Linked DNA regions of Homo sapiens. The protein of the gene in region 4 purifies or fractionates together with the protein of the main gene of each other region. This does not show direct contact. Each region holds a gene or a part of one and is shown on either strand. Other genes may lie near its edges.

Region 1 (3,500 bases), on a different chromosome or scaffold from region 4:
GCCATCTATCGTGTGCTGAGCCCTTGAAATGTGACAAGTCAGAACTGATGTGCGCTCTAAGTGTCAAATAGAGACTGTCTCAAAGGCCTTAGTTACCCAAAAAACTGTGAGACACCTGATAATTTTCTATTAATTATAAGTTGTTTTTAATATATTGGGTTAACTAAAATATCTTATTAAAATTAATTTCACCTGGGCATGGTGGCACATGCCTGTAATCCCAGCACTCTGGGAGGCCAAGGCAGGCAGATCACTGGAGCTCAGGAGTTCGAGACCACCCTGGGCAACATGGCAAAACCCCATCTCTATAAAAAAAAAACATTAGGGGGGCACGGTGGCTCACGCCTGTAATCCTAGCACTTTGGGAGGCCGAGGCAGGTGGATCATGAGGTCAGGAGTTCGAGAATACCCTGGCCAAGATGGTGAAACCCCATCTCTACTAAAAAAAAATACAAAAATTAGCCAGGCATGGTGGCAGGTGCCTGTAATCCCAGCTACTCGGGAGACTGAGGCACGAGAATTGCTTGAACCCGGGAGGTGGAGGTTGCAGTGGTGAGATGAGATCGGCCACTGCATTCTAGCCTGGGCGACAGAGCAATACTCGGTCTCAGAAAAAAAAAAATAATAATAATAATACAAACGTTAGCCAGATGTGGTGGTGCACACTTGTGGTCCCAGCTAGTTGGGAAGCTGAGGTGGGAGGATCACCTGAGCCTGGGTTGGTGGAGGTTGCAGTGAGCTGGGATTGCACCACTGCACTCCAGCCTGGGCAACAGAGCAAGACTCTGTCTCAAAAAAAAAAAAAAAAAAAAAAAAAAAGGCTGGGCGCAGTGGCTCATGCCCGTAATCCCAGCACTTTGGGAGGCTGAGGCGGGCGGATCACGAGGTCAGGAGCTCAAGACCAGCCTGGCCAACATAGTGAAACCCTGTCTCTACTAAAAATACAGAAAAATTAGCCGGGTGTGGTGGTGCATGCCTGTAATCCCAGCTACTTGGCAGGCTGGGGCAGGAGAATCACTTGAACCCAGGAGGCAGAGGTTGCAGTGAGCCGAGATAGCGCCATTGCACTTCAGCTTGGGCAATAGAGTGAGACTTCGTCCCTCCTACCCCCCACTCCCCACCCCCTCCCCCCCAAAAAAGGAAGAAAAACTAATTTCACCATTTCTTTTTACTCTTTTGACATGGTTACTAGAAAACTTCACATCACCTAGGGGGCTCACATTTTTTTGCTATTAGACCATTCGGGGCTACAGAGTTCCCATTTTAACCAGACTCAAAAAAAAAAAAAACACTGAAGAAAGAAATTATAGAATTGTGCTCACAGAAACCTTTTTTACCAGAATATCCAACGTTGGTGTATGGCTTCCTGTAAAGCATTTTGCACTCAAACTTCTACGCATAAGACACGAATTCCAAAGGGCTTCGGATGCCTTGAAGCTTACGCATCAAACAGAACTAGAAAAGCTTCGACACGGAAGCAAGCTCGTTTCGCCTCCAGAACGCGCCAGCTGCTCCCCTGATGAATGCAGGCATTCAGGGCTCGTGGATCCGCTGCCGATGCCTCTATTCTGGGCTTCTTCCATATGATTAGGAGGCTGTTCCTACTCTGTAGTTTTTCATTCCAAGCTGCGTGCGATTTTCTGCAATCAGGTTTGTTTCTCCAGGGTTCAATGGGTGGCGACGAAAACACAGAGAGTTTGACAATCCGGGCAGGTGGTGGATACGGAAGCTAAGAGGATTGCACGCGGTGGCTGCATCTGGGGGAGGGTGCGTTAACTCTGCCAAGTCCCTGGAGGGGCCATGAGTGGCCCCAGGGGGCTGCCAGGTGCACAGTGTCCTCTGGCTATGCTGACGCCTCTGATTCTTTGTCTGAGCAGTGAGGTGACTGAGTTGGCCTAAGGCCTCTTAAAGGTTGAACTCAATGAATTAAGGCTGGAGACATTTCTGAATGGCCTGGGGTGTCAACAGGTATGAACCAGTGTGCCCATCATGGCCAGTGGACCCCACTCCCCCATCTCTGGGTGTCAAGCACCAATGGGCGCTGCTGAGAGATTCCGCATGTAACAGGGCTATGGTATAATGGTTTCCCGTGACTGCCGCAACAAACCACTACCAACTGGGTGGTTTACAACAGAAATTCATCCACTTGCGGTTCTGGAGGCTGGAAGTCTGAAATCAAGGTCTTGGTGGGGCCACACTCCCTCTGAAAGTTCAAGGGAGGATCCTTCCTCGCCTCTTCCAGCTTCTGGTGGTCCCAGTGTTCCTTGGCTTGTGGCTCCGTCCCTCCAGTCCCTGTTTCTCATTTCGCATGGCCGTCTTCTCCCTATGTTTCTTGGTGTTTCTGTGTCCAAATTCCCCACTTCTTATAAGGACAGCAATCATTACACTGAGGGTCCACCCTAATCCAAGACGATCTCATTTAACTTTATCACATCTGCAGACCCCACTCCCAAACAAGGGCTCACTCACAGGTCCAGGATTAGGACTGGAACACATATTCTTGAGGAGCACATTTCAGCCCACATGACTGGCTAAGCAGTGGGACCCACAGCCCTCCTGCTCTTATTAACCAAGGGTGGGCTGGGTGTGGTGGCTCACGCCTACAATCTCAGCACTTTGGGAGGCTGAAACAGTAGAATGGTTTGAGCCCAAGAGTTTGAGACCAGCCTGGGCAACATGGTAAGACCCTGTCTCTACAGAAAATTCAAAAATTAGCCAGGTGTGGTGGCATGGGCCTGTGGTCCCAGCTACTCGGGAGGCTGAGGTGGGAGGATCACGAGCCCAGGAAGTTGAGGCTGTAGTGAGCTGTGATTGAGCCACTGCACTCCAGCCTGGGCAACAGAGTGAGATCCTAAACAAAAACAAACAAAAAGGGCCTCTTTGTGCCAGGTGCAGAGCTGGGGCCAGAGTGCAGCCTGGAGATGCCAGGCCTAGGCTGTTGACACAAATGATGTGGTTTATGACAACACCTGCGTTCCCTCTGGGAGTCTAGAATTTTGACACGTGTCAAGCAGAGGGTGACTACATGACCAGCCCCCAGTAAAAAGCCTGGGCAGGGAGTCCTTGGTGGGCACCCTCTGCTGGGGGAATTAAGTGTGTCCCGTATGACTCCACAGGGAGAGAACTCTGAAGCTTGGGCCTGGCCTGCCCGGGAATTCGCGCACCTTTTCCCTTTGCTGATGGTGTTTGCGTCCTTCCGTCACAATAAATCACGGCTGTGAGGACAACTATATGCTGAGTCCTGCCAGTGCTCCTAGGGAACCGGTGAGCCTGTAGATGGTCTTAGGAACCCTGCCACATGCAGCAACTGCAGACCTTCCCGTGAGACAGGTGGCAGCTGGGACCAGGGACCAGGGCGGTGGGGCTGGAAAGAGCCCAGCTGGGGAATTTCCTCTGGAAAGGCCCAGGGGAAGAGCGGCCTCCACCTTGTGGACAGAAGGAGAGCAGTGGAGCGGGGGCAGCTAGGAGATCCCTGTTTACCTGGCACACCATGGGGCACG
Region 2 (3,500 bases), on a different chromosome or scaffold from region 4:
GGTTCTTCAACACTCTGCAGATCCTGGATCAGTTCTGGAACCTTCCTCGGGAGGTCTTAAAGTATTGGGCAGAAGAAAATCTCCAGAATCCCAGGCTCTTTCAGACAATAAACTCCCTGGGAAAGTTTAATGGAGAATATCCTAGAAATGACCCAAATGTAGACTATAACCACTGATCTTATTACTAATTAGGAGAACTAACTAGGAAATGTCGAGTCTAGGGTGGTGATCTTCTGAATCCAAAGCTTAAGATAAAAACAACACCAGCCTTGTGTTGCGGGAAGTCAGGGACCCCGAATGGAGGGACTGGCTGAAGCCGCAGCAGAAGAACATAAATTGTTTCATGGACATTTATTAGTTCCCAAAATTAATACTTTTATAATTTCTTACACCTGTCTTTACTGCAATCTCTGAACATAAATTGTGAAGATTTCATGGACATTTATTAGTTCCCCAAATTAATACTTTTTAAATTTCTTATGACTGTCTTACTTTAATCTCTTAATCCCGTCATCTTTGTAAACTGAGGATGTATGTCACCTCAGTACCCTGTGATGATTGCGTTAACTGTACAAATTGTTTGAAAAACATGTGTGTTTGAACAATATGAAATTAGTGCACCCTGAAAAAGAACAGAATAACAGCAATTTTCAGGGAACACGGAAAGATAACCATAAGGTCTGACTGCTTGCGGGGTTGGGCAGAATAGAGTCATACTCTTCTTCTTGCAGAAAGCGAGTAGGAGAAATACTGCTGAATTCTTTTTCCAGCAAGGAATAACCCTGGGGAAGGAATGCATTCTGGGAGAGAGGTCTATGAATGGCCGCTCTGGGAGTGTCTGTCTTATGCGGTTGAGATAGGACTAAAATACACCCTGGTCTCCTACAGTGCCCTCAGACTTACTAGGATTGGGAAATTCCAGCCTGGTAAATTCTAGTCAGACTGGTTGTCTGCTCTTGAACCCTATTTCCTGTTAAAATGTTTATAAAGACAATGTGTGCACAGTGGGACACAGACCCTCATCAGTAATTCTAATTTTTGCCTCTGCTTTGTGATTTTACTGCCCTTTGCAGCATGTGATCTCTGTGACCCACTCCCTATTCGTACACTCCCTCCCCTTTTGAAATCCCTAATAAAAACTTGCTGGTTTTGTGGCTCGGAGTCACCATCACGGTCCTACCAATATGTGATGGCACTCCTGGAGGCCCAGCTGTAAAATTTCTCTCTTTGTACTCTTTCTCTTTATTTCTCAGACCGGCCGACACTTAAGGAAAACAGAAAGAACCTATGTTGAAATATTGGGGACTGGTTCCCCTGATAGCCTTGGGATTTTGGTATTAACTTATAATATAAGGTTTGCAATTCAGGGCCAGATAGACAAATGAAAGGGAACATTTGTGAGACATTATGAATTAAATTCTCTCCTACAGAATAACTATTTGCTATTGGTACATATCCTGATATGACTAAGACATAATCCTTGCTCCTAACTTCTGGGCTATATTTGATTTGCCTTTTTTCCCCCCTTTTAAATCAATTAAGTCTACTTATATTCTGCAATCTAATAGTTATATAGTACTTATTTGGTAAAAGCTTCCTATCTTGGAAATGAACATAATGTTTCTTTAATGGAGACATTTTTCTTGTCAATCTAAATCATATAGTGTAAGTATGACAAAATGATTTCTTCTCACCTCATAGTCTTTAAACAATTGGCGCATGAAGAAAAGCCACCCAAATCCAAAAAATAGTATCTGGAGGAGAAAGAAAATAGAATGTCAATACATATTTTCTTTTGAGAAATGTTTTATAGAAACTCTTTTATGATAAAAGGTCTGCTAACTAGACGGTTAACTTATTTCAGGGATTAAAGATAAGATCCACTCTTATAAGACCTATTATTAAAGCTCATGACATTGGAAATAAATTTTTAAATGCCCTTGGAGTTTTGAAGTTATCCATGTTACAGAGTATGCTTTAAGACAAAAATGGAAGTACATATTTTGCCATAATCTTATGATAATCATTATATGAGCCAGAGAAGTTTGCAAATAGAAAAGGAGTCAGTGGCCAGGCACGGTGCCTCACACTTGTAATCCCAGCACTTTGGGAGGACAAGGTGGGCAGATCACCTGAAGCCAGGAGTTCAAGACCAGTCTGGCCAACATGGCAAAGCTCCGTCTCTACTGAAAATACAAAAATTAGCTGGGTGTGGGCACCTGTATTCCCAGCTACTCCAAAGGCTGAGGCATGAGAATCGCTTGAATCTGGGAGGCAGAGGTTGCAGAGAGCCAATATCGTGCCACTGCATTCCAGCCTGGGTGATAGAGTGAGACTAGGTCTCGAAAAAAAAGAAAAGGTGTCAGAGTGAGACTTGCTTCTTATGGATGATCCCTGATTGCAAGTATTTAAAAATAATACCAGCCTGGCCAACATGGTGAAAACCCGTCTCTACAAAAAACACACACACATAAAAATTAGCTGGGGGTGGTGGGGTGTGCCTGTAGTCCCAGCCACCTGGGAGGCTGAGGTGGGAAGATCACCTGAGCCTAGGAAGTTGAGGCTGCAGTGAGCCATGATTGCACCACTGCGCTCCAGCCTGGGCAACAGAGTGAGACCCTGTCTCAAAAAATAAATAAAAATAAATTAATTTAAAAAATAAAAACTTCAGGGGAGAGGAGTTGAGACCAAAATTAGAGGAGTAGTAGAAAGCCTAATATTTTTTATATCTGTTTCCTTCAGAGAGTTTTCTTAGCTTCTCCACCATCCTGCCTAATCTACATAAAAGTGGTTTTCATCTCAATGTAAAGCCGAGAGATTGCAGGATCCCTCTTTCGTCAGTTTTGTTTCAAACTGGCAGAGACCGTAGCCACATGACAGCTGATAAAGCTGGTCTGTAGTAAACAGAACTTTCTATACATACACACTGACACAACTACTCTTTTCTTCTTAAACTGGCTAGGACCTTTATGAATAAAATGATTTTATGTCTTTCTAGGGACTACTTTACTGAGCAAGTGTAAACTCAGTAGTTTAGCACAGACTACTTTAGCTTCTTATCATGCCCCTGCTGCCTAGCAAACTCATGTGTTCAGCCCCCTGGAACTTCTTTGGTTCTTTAGATCCATATTCTTTCACATCGAGACCTGTGTAGATGTCCTCTGAAAGGAACTTCTCTCTAGCCCTCTCCCAGTTATGCTATTTACTCCCCCTGGAAGGCCCTCTCTGCCCTCCCAAATGCAGATAAATTGCTTTTTATATAATCCTGTTTTACATTGTACTTCCCTCATCAAAGTGCTTACCATACAGTTTTGTAATGTGTGATTTAAATATTTTTTGACATTAGATTATAAGCTCTATGAGGACAAAAACCATGTTTGTCTTGTAATCTTTGTATCCTTGGCATCCAGCACAAAGCCTGGTACGTAGCAGGCTCTCCATAAGTGCTTGCTGAATGGCTAAGTGGTCTACATAAAAGATGGTTTATTCTTCAGCATTCA
Region 3 (3,393 bases), on a different chromosome or scaffold from region 4:
CCTAAATGTAGTATTTTTAGAACCCTTTCCTAGACTCTCCTCCTTCCCCCTAAGCAAGACTAGGACATCATTCTCTTCCTTCTCCATCCCTCATGGCTCTGGATTTATTGTCAACTCCCTGAGTGCCTGTGTAACTGCAAAAAGTTCAAAAACCTGACTGCTCCTACCTCAGGGGCATGGCTTAGCCTCTGATCATCAGGTCTGAATCATGAAAACTCCTGGAGCTACAGGTTCATTTCTGAACCTGGAGGGGAACAGGGAATTTGCTGGCGCTGTCTGACATTTCTCAAGCACAGTGGCAAGTAGAAGTTGAACTTGTGTACTTTTTCTTGGCTGATCCTTACCTGCTTCAATGAGTTGGCACTTGTTGGGTCTTAACTTGTCTGTGGCATTGTGTTACAAGACCAGAGCACAAAGCACAAAGTTGTTAGGTAATTTTCACCAGTAATTCACTGAGATGATTGGTAGATGCCAAGTTTATTTTAACTCATGAATAATCTGTTGTGTGACTTTTTTTTTTAAGCGTCTTGCTCTCTTGCCCAGGATGGGATACAGTGGCATGATCATAGCTCACTGCAGCCGTGACCTCCTGGGCTCAAGTGATCCTCCCCCCTCAGCCTCCCAAATAGCTGGGAGTACAGGCACGCACCACCACACCTGACTAATTTATTTATTTATATTTATTTTGTAGAGACAGGGTCTCCTATGTTGCCCAGGCTGCTCCCAAACTCCTGGGCTCAAGCAATCCTCCCACCTCAGCCTCCCAAAGTGTTGGGATTACAGGAATGAGCCACTGTGCCTGGCCTGTATGACTTTCTAAATCACTTCTGAGACTTAGTTGGAGACAATACAGCAGAGTTGTTGTGTATGAGGGGTCCAATGTCAGAAGTACCTACATTCAAATGCTGATTTCCCCAGTTAATACTTAACCTGCCTCAATTACTTCAGTAAAATGGGGGATAATAGCAACACCTACCCGATGGGCTGTTGTGACAGTTAAATGAGCGCGGTGGTGCATGGCAAGACCTAGCTGAATGTTAGCTTTTTATTAATAGTATTTCTTTAAAGGTTGTTCATTATACCCTTGCTCACTGTCCTCGTCCATTTTCTGCTTCCTATAACAGAATGCCACTGCCTGCGTAGTTTATAATGAACAGAAATTCATTAGGGTCACAGTTCCAGAGGCTGGGAAGTCTAAGGGCATGGCGCTGGCATCTGGCAAGGGTCATCCTATGGCAGAAGGCAGAACCCAGCACATGAGACAGAGACAGGAAATCAGGCCAAAGTCATCCTTTTTATCAGGAGCTGCATTCCTGGGATAACTAATCCACTCCCAAGATAACGGCATTAATCCATTCATGAGGGCTGAACCCTCATAACCTAATCACCTCTTAAAGGTCCCACCTTTTAATACCATCATCATGGCAATTAAATTTCTTTCTTTTTTTTTTTTTTTTGGTGGAGAAGGGGTCAAACTATTTTACTGAGGGGAATGGGGTGTCAAAGAAGTACTTAGGACCATGAGATCCAACATCCTTGGCTGGACTGGGAGCTCCCAGGCTCTGCAGGAGGTGCAAGAACAGTTAAATTTCAACATGAGTTTTGCTCTTCAAACCATAGCACCTCCATTGGGGGTGGGGAGGTGAGGTCACTCTGTATCAGTGGTTCTCAACTTCATGCAGTGGAACTGCCTAGGGAGCTTTTGCAGATCCAAGGCTAGGCCACACCCAGACAATGATATCAGAACCTCTGGGCTGGGGACACAGACATCAGTACTTGGGAAGCTTCCAGGTGATTCCAGTGAGCAGCCATGGTTGAGACCCACAGTATAACTTGACTCCTAATGAAGATGGGTGGAAGCAGAAGCTTGGGTTCAAATCCTGGCCTTTCTGTGTAGCCCAGTGACCATGGGAAAATGCTTAACTTCTGAGTCACAGTTTCTTCTCGTCTGTACCAGTAGGGGCGAGGAGGATAAAAGCCACCTCACATGATGGTCCTGCAGAGAAGATGACATATGTGCAGTTATTCTTGTTTGAGCACATAACTGAGCACTTTTCTTTATACCATTATATGGCAGTAATCCTACTTGTGTGCTATTTTTAAGTTGTTTTTTATACCAGCTGTATCTTAAGTAGATTATAAGCTCCTTGGGACAGAGCCTTTATAGAGTCTTATAATACTTTTATGCCTATAGCACCTAAGATACAGGGACAGGCCTTCAGATTTTTAGAACTGGCACAAACCTTAGAGAGATCTTCTCGCCAACTCTAAAGTGTTGAATAATACTTGCTGGTTAATTAATATGCAAGTGGTAAAGAATGTGAAAGAGGAACCTGTGAGTCAGATGGTTGTGCCCAGCTTCAGTTGGAAGTCCCAGTCCTTCCTCTCCCAGCTAACAGCACTTTCTTTCCAGGGTTAGTTTGGTGCTTGCTTGGGGTAGGGGTGGAGAAGGATGTTGGGATAATCAGAGCTGAGAGGGTGAGTGTGTCTACCATGGCACTCAGCTCACTGTGCTTCTCTCCTGGCAGACCCAGTCATGGCAGCCTCCAGCATCAGTTCACCATGGGGAAAGCATGTGTTCAAAGCCATTCTGATGGTCCTAGTGGCCCTTATCCTCCTCCACTCAGCATTGGCCCAGTCCCGTCGAGACTTTGCACCACCAGGCCAACAGAAGAGAGAAGCCCCAGTTGATGTCTTGACCCAGATAGGTCGATCTGTGCGAGGGACACTGGATGCCTGGATTGGGCCAGAGACCATGCACCTGGTGTCAGAGGTAAGGAAGGTAGTCCCTGTGTGACTACACACATTAAGGAAAAATAAAAGAAGAAAGGTTGGTAATGGCCACCTCATCTTAGTTCCACATCCTCTCTGGTGCAGAGAGCCCCAAATTCCACAAAAAGAAGCCACACAGCACTTGTCTTTGAATTCCTCGTTATTTGATTGCTGTCCTAGGGCCTTTTAGCTCCACCCCTATCCTTTCCTGGCTCCTGCCCTTTCCTTGCCAGAAAGGCTGGGAAATGAGCCATCTTTATAAGCCCATGTTACTGGGTGACTGTAGAGTCTCACTTTGGTCTAAATCTGACCTAGAATCTCGAAATGGCAAAATATCAAGTCCTGAATCCATTCCTTCACCTGCAGAAGTGGGTTGAGCTTATTGGGAGCCTAAGGCAGGGTTATCTTTTTTTACCTGGTGGCATCCCAAGCATGGTATCACATACTTTTGATAGGCTGGACTGAAGGGCTGAGACAATCATTTATTAAATCCATAATATAGTATAGCTGATAGACTCCTTTTTCACTGGAACATCCTATCCCTTTACAGATGTTCTCCACGCACCTTCATGACTCCCTGGACAGCTAGCAGGCCTCCAGTTTTATAGGGTGACTACTAAA
Region 4 (4,210 bases):
TATAAATATTACAAAGCTACACCCAAATGGTGGTTTGAATATGAGGACAGAGTAGGGAACAAAAAACCAGGTTACCTCAGGTTGGTTTTTTCCTCTACTCTTCGAATGCTGTGTGACTTTAAGCTAATCACTCAGCCTCTCTACACCACAAGGTCTTCGAAACAATGCTCCATTCCAAACTTCAGTATCTGTACCAAAGGACCACTAGGTAGTGTGTGCTCCAAGTTTCCAGGGTAAAAGTCACCATTCAAATGCTTACGTGTGCCAAACGACAATTCCCCTTGCAAAATTATCATTTGCAGATTCACACACATTAATTAATATGTTAAAAATTATCTAGAAAAACCTGTGTCTTGCTGCAAAATACTACTGTGCATCACATACCAAAATCATCAATACCTAACGGAAAAAAAAGTGATTGGAGACCATTTCAACTCATATGTCATTCGGGGGCAACACAGGGAGGCTGGCTGGCATCCTCCTTAACATTTGGCTTTTGCCTGTTAGATCTTCAGTTACTGGGGTGTGGAGGGGTCCTAAGACCAACAGAGATGAGAAGGGAGGAAGAGGAAGTGAGAGGAAAAAAGAATATGAAAGGTAGGAAGGAGAAAGGTAGGACAGAGGGAGGGATGCGGAAAAGGCCGTGCTATGGAACTAAATCTGAGTCAGTGGCACCTGAATAGAAATGTCACTACCAGGGAAACCATTCCAAAATGACATTCCAGTCCCCAGGTTTCAAGTTTGCAGAGTGTCTGGCCTCCTCTCCTCCCAAATCCCAGCTTTTCAGGGCCCAGGCAGCCCCCTGTCACTGATTGACTTAACTATATGAGTCACATCCTTCACCCAGAAAAAAATGTCTTTTATATTCTTGAAAGTGGTGGGAACTCTATGTCTCATAGAGCCCCAACATACCAGAAAAAAATGGCCAGCGTGTAATCCACTAGGAATAGCCCTTTCCAAAGGTGGCATGAACTATAAACTGGTTTTTCACTGGAGAAAAATAAAAAAGGAAAATAAAAATGGGATTCGGGAAAACCCCCTTAGTGAGACTGTCAGTAGACAGAAGTCTGGCAGATGTGAATCTGCCCTGGGAGAGATTCTGCTTCCCTCACACCGGCACGGCCCCCTTCCTGATGTCAGAACCCAAGGCTACGGGATCTGAGATCCAGGAGAGCAATGGAGAGAGCCGTGGAGTCTTGAACAGCTTCACTGAAGACCAAGACGGACTCTCTGCTATTACCATAAATGATGAAGTCTGTCAAGCGGTCTGCTAAGACTGAATGAAGACTGACGCCTGTTTCACTTCCCCACCAAGCAGGAGACCAGCCAAGCTGGGGGAGATCCCTTTTTAAATTCATGGCACCTTTGAAAATATTTTACGGTGACTATCAAAATGTCTTTATTCTGCACCTCATGACATCTTGCATTAGAGCTACGTCGACCTCAACACCACAGCACATACTTGTAACTGTTTTTTTGTTTGTTTGTTTTGTTTTGTTTTGTTTCTTTCTCACAACCCTTTACATGGCTGTTTTCCCACTAATCGTGCCACTTCCACGGCCGGGATATAAAACCATTTTACAACAGTTATTCTCCCATGTTTTTCCTTCATTTTATAGACAGCTGAATCCCAGGATCGAAGCTGTTTCAGCAGACAACTGTTGGGAGCACACAAGATCTATTTCAGCTCAAGAAAGGCCAAGGACAAAGACAAGACAAAAGTTGTGGGTTAAAGGGCAGACTTTGCGCAGAGCACCGGTAGAGGAGCGGACAGTGTGATGCGTGGTCCACTGCAAACCATTTCTTCCACAGCAGCAGCTCTGCAAAAGGGACCTCTGAGGAAGAATTCCCTGTCTTCCCAGTGAGTGGTCATTTTAGGAGAACAAGTCCCCTACTAGCCCATAGCTGGAGGGCCAACACTTTTTCTCTCCCTGAAGTTCCCGGCACCTGTTCTGAAAGGGGGTTGAAGAGCTCTCTACTCGGGCCATCCCGCCTGCTCTCTGGATGGAGAACATACGGACAACTGTGTGTTAAGCAGTCCCCTTGAATCCTTCAGCAAGCCAAGGAGTATACAGGTGGTCACCTGCACAGGTGCCGGGTCTACCACCACAACTTTATCCCTGGCCTTGGGGGCTGATGGAGAGTAAGACTCCCCACCACCGCCACCAGCAGTACCTCCAGCTCGCGAGTAAGCAGCGCACAGGCGGGCACAGGTAAATGTTCCCAGGGCGGCCAGACGCCTAAGCCTGCTGGCTGCTGGCGCTCAGGGTCCCCACCTCCATGCCTCTGCGTGGGGCAGGGGGAGTCCTCGTGCCTGGCATCCCACTCCCCCCGCCAACCCAGCCCGCTTATCCTGGGGCTCCGGCCGGGCCGCCCGAAGGAGCCCCGCGCCCAGCCCCGGGAGCCCCGAGCCGCCGGAGCCGCAGCGCCCACTCGGGGCAGGCAGCGTGCACTCACCCTTCTGCTCTCGCAGGCTCGACAGCGACCAGAGCAGCAGCGCCACCGAGGCCAGGAAGCAGAGCTGGCTCAGCAGAAGGTCCCTCCGGCGGCGGCGGCGGCGGCGGCGACGCGCGCGGTCCTCGTCGCCGGACGGCCGCATCCTCGGGCGGCCGGGCGGCGGCCTCGGCGGGCGGCGGCCGCTCCTGTCGCGGGCGGCCGCGGCGGGGACAGCGGCAGGAGGCAGCCCTGCGCGCAGCAGCCGCGCGTCCTCGCTGCGCTCCCACCCGGCCGCCGCCTCCGCCTCCTCTTCCTCCTCCTCGCCGCTGCCCGTCTCCTCGTCGTCGCCCTCCTCGTCGCTATCGCCCAGTCCCTCCTCCCCTCCCTCCTCCTCCTCCTCGCCGCTCGCCCGCGCCGCCGCCTCCCGGCGCTCGGGGTCCCGCTCCTCCTCGCGCGCCATGGCTCCCACGCTCCGCGCCCGCGCTCGGCCTGGGGCGGCGGCGCGGCGGGGGCGGCGGGGGCGGCCGGGAGGCGGGGGCGGAGGGGGCAGAGGAGGAGGAGCGGGGAAGGACCGACGGTAGGAGGGCCCGCCGCTGGCCAACTCCGCCGGTTGGCAAAGCCACCCCGGACTGGCTCTGGCCTCGCCGGCTGCAGGAGCGCCTCGCGGGGCCGCCCGCCTATTCCATGGTCGGCGCGATGGGGGCCGGGGCCGGGCCGGAGCGAACAGGGAGCACCGAGCGAGCTGGGAGCATGAGCTAGCGCAGCTCCCGGCAGCCTGCAGCGGCGAGGCTGGTCGGGCCAGGGTTGGCGGGGGGCAGTGCCTGGGACACAGCCCGGCGCTGGCCGGCATGGCGGGGAGGGGGCGCGCTGGGAGGAGACTGGGCTGGGGAGGGATCCCTGTGTGCAGTCCTTCAACCCTTCTGTGCCAGGGGAAGAGGGACGGCGCAGGGGGCCCCCTCTCGGGAAGCACACACGCTGCCTCCCAGAGGCCGATCTTCACCAAGAAGGATTCGCTGGAAACTTTCGGAAAACCGAGGGGCTCTTCAGCCTCCTCTCTACGTGCTACCTGGAGTCGGGGCGCCGCGAGTGCGCTTGGCTGCCCGCGCCCAGCCTCTGGCCTCGCCTCTTCTCGCGGGCCTCCCGGGTTTCCCTCTGCCCCCTTGCGGGGATCCCCCTGTGCGCCCGACTCGGGATCTGGAACAGGCCTCCCCAGAGGCTGTTAGTTCCATAAGGGTGTCCGGCTCCCCCCTCTGTCTTGGGCTCACACTTCGCTTTCTGTTCGTGCTGGACCAAGTCCAATACTGTGGCTGATCGAAGTGGGGACAGCTGGCACGGTCCCTGGAGAGGCGGCCTGAAGAGGCTTCTGGCCTTGTGCAGGTAACACCAGCCTGCCCTACCTCCAACGTTAGAATCTTAGTCCTCCCATTTCCCCCATTCTAGGTCTCCTGCCCCTCCTTGCTGAAGGTGTGGGCTGCCCTAGAGATGGCTGGACTCACGACCTGCCGCAGGTGCCCATTTGGAGGGGATCCCTGGCCATCCCAGACACAGCCCACTCTCCCTCATTGGGCTTCCCTGGACTCTTCCCAGATGCTAGCCTGGGGCTGCTGGCTGGGCTGAGGAGGAGATGCCATTGTTGGGGCGGAGGGTGGGGGGGCGCTGAAAACAAAAGACCTTGTCCAGAAAGGGATCACCTGAAACCAGGTGTCTGTCTAGGTGACTGTCTCCATGGAATCCATTCAGATCAGGGAATCTAGCTTCATACCCTAAGGAGGTG

The links. The genes of interacting proteins can lie anywhere in the genome.
Region 1: the proteins of SLC24A3 (region 4) and BRI3BP purify together in Homo sapiens (affinity purification with mass spectrometry; one large-scale study listed by BioGRID and IntAct). This does not show direct contact.
Region 2: the proteins of SLC24A3 (region 4) and GPR89A purify together in Homo sapiens (affinity purification with mass spectrometry, with the first as the bait; one large-scale study listed by BioGRID). This does not show direct contact.
Region 3: the proteins of SLC24A3 (region 4) and TMEM109 purify together in Homo sapiens (affinity purification with mass spectrometry; one large-scale study listed by BioGRID and IntAct). This does not show direct contact.

The regions. Positions count from the first base shown.
Region 1 is NC_000012.12:125,014,145-125,017,644, reverse strand, and holds part of BRI3BP (BRI3-binding protein precursor), read right to left. Parts: intron 1-3,500. UniProt on the Homo sapiens protein: Involved in tumorigenesis and may function by stabilizing p53/TP53.
Region 2 is NC_000001.11:145,614,488-145,617,987, reverse strand, and holds part of GPR89A (Golgi pH regulator A), read right to left. Parts: intron 1,755-3,500; coding exon 1,695-1,754; intron 1-1,694. UniProt on the Homo sapiens protein: Voltage-gated channel that enables the transfer of anions such as iodide, chloride, bromide and fluoride which may function in counter-ion conductance and participates in Golgi acidification.
Region 3 is NC_000011.10:60,917,158-60,920,550, forward strand, and holds part of TMEM109 (voltage-gated monoatomic cation channel TMEM109 precursor), read left to right. Parts: intron 1-458; exon of another isoform or gene 459-1,996; intron 1,997-2,528; 5' UTR 2,529-2,536; coding exon 2,537-2,773; intron 2,774-3,393. UniProt on the Homo sapiens protein: Functions as a voltage-gated monoatomic cation channel permeable to both potassium and calcium. Plays a role in the cellular response to DNA damage.
Region 4 is NC_000020.11:19,211,232-19,215,441, reverse strand, and holds the start of SLC24A3 (sodium/potassium/calcium exchanger 3 precursor), read right to left. Parts: upstream 2,801-4,210; 5' UTR 2,600-2,800; coding exon 2,458-2,599; intron 1-2,457. UniProt on the Homo sapiens protein: Calcium, potassium:sodium antiporter that transports 1 Ca(2+) and 1 K(+) in exchange for 4 Na(+).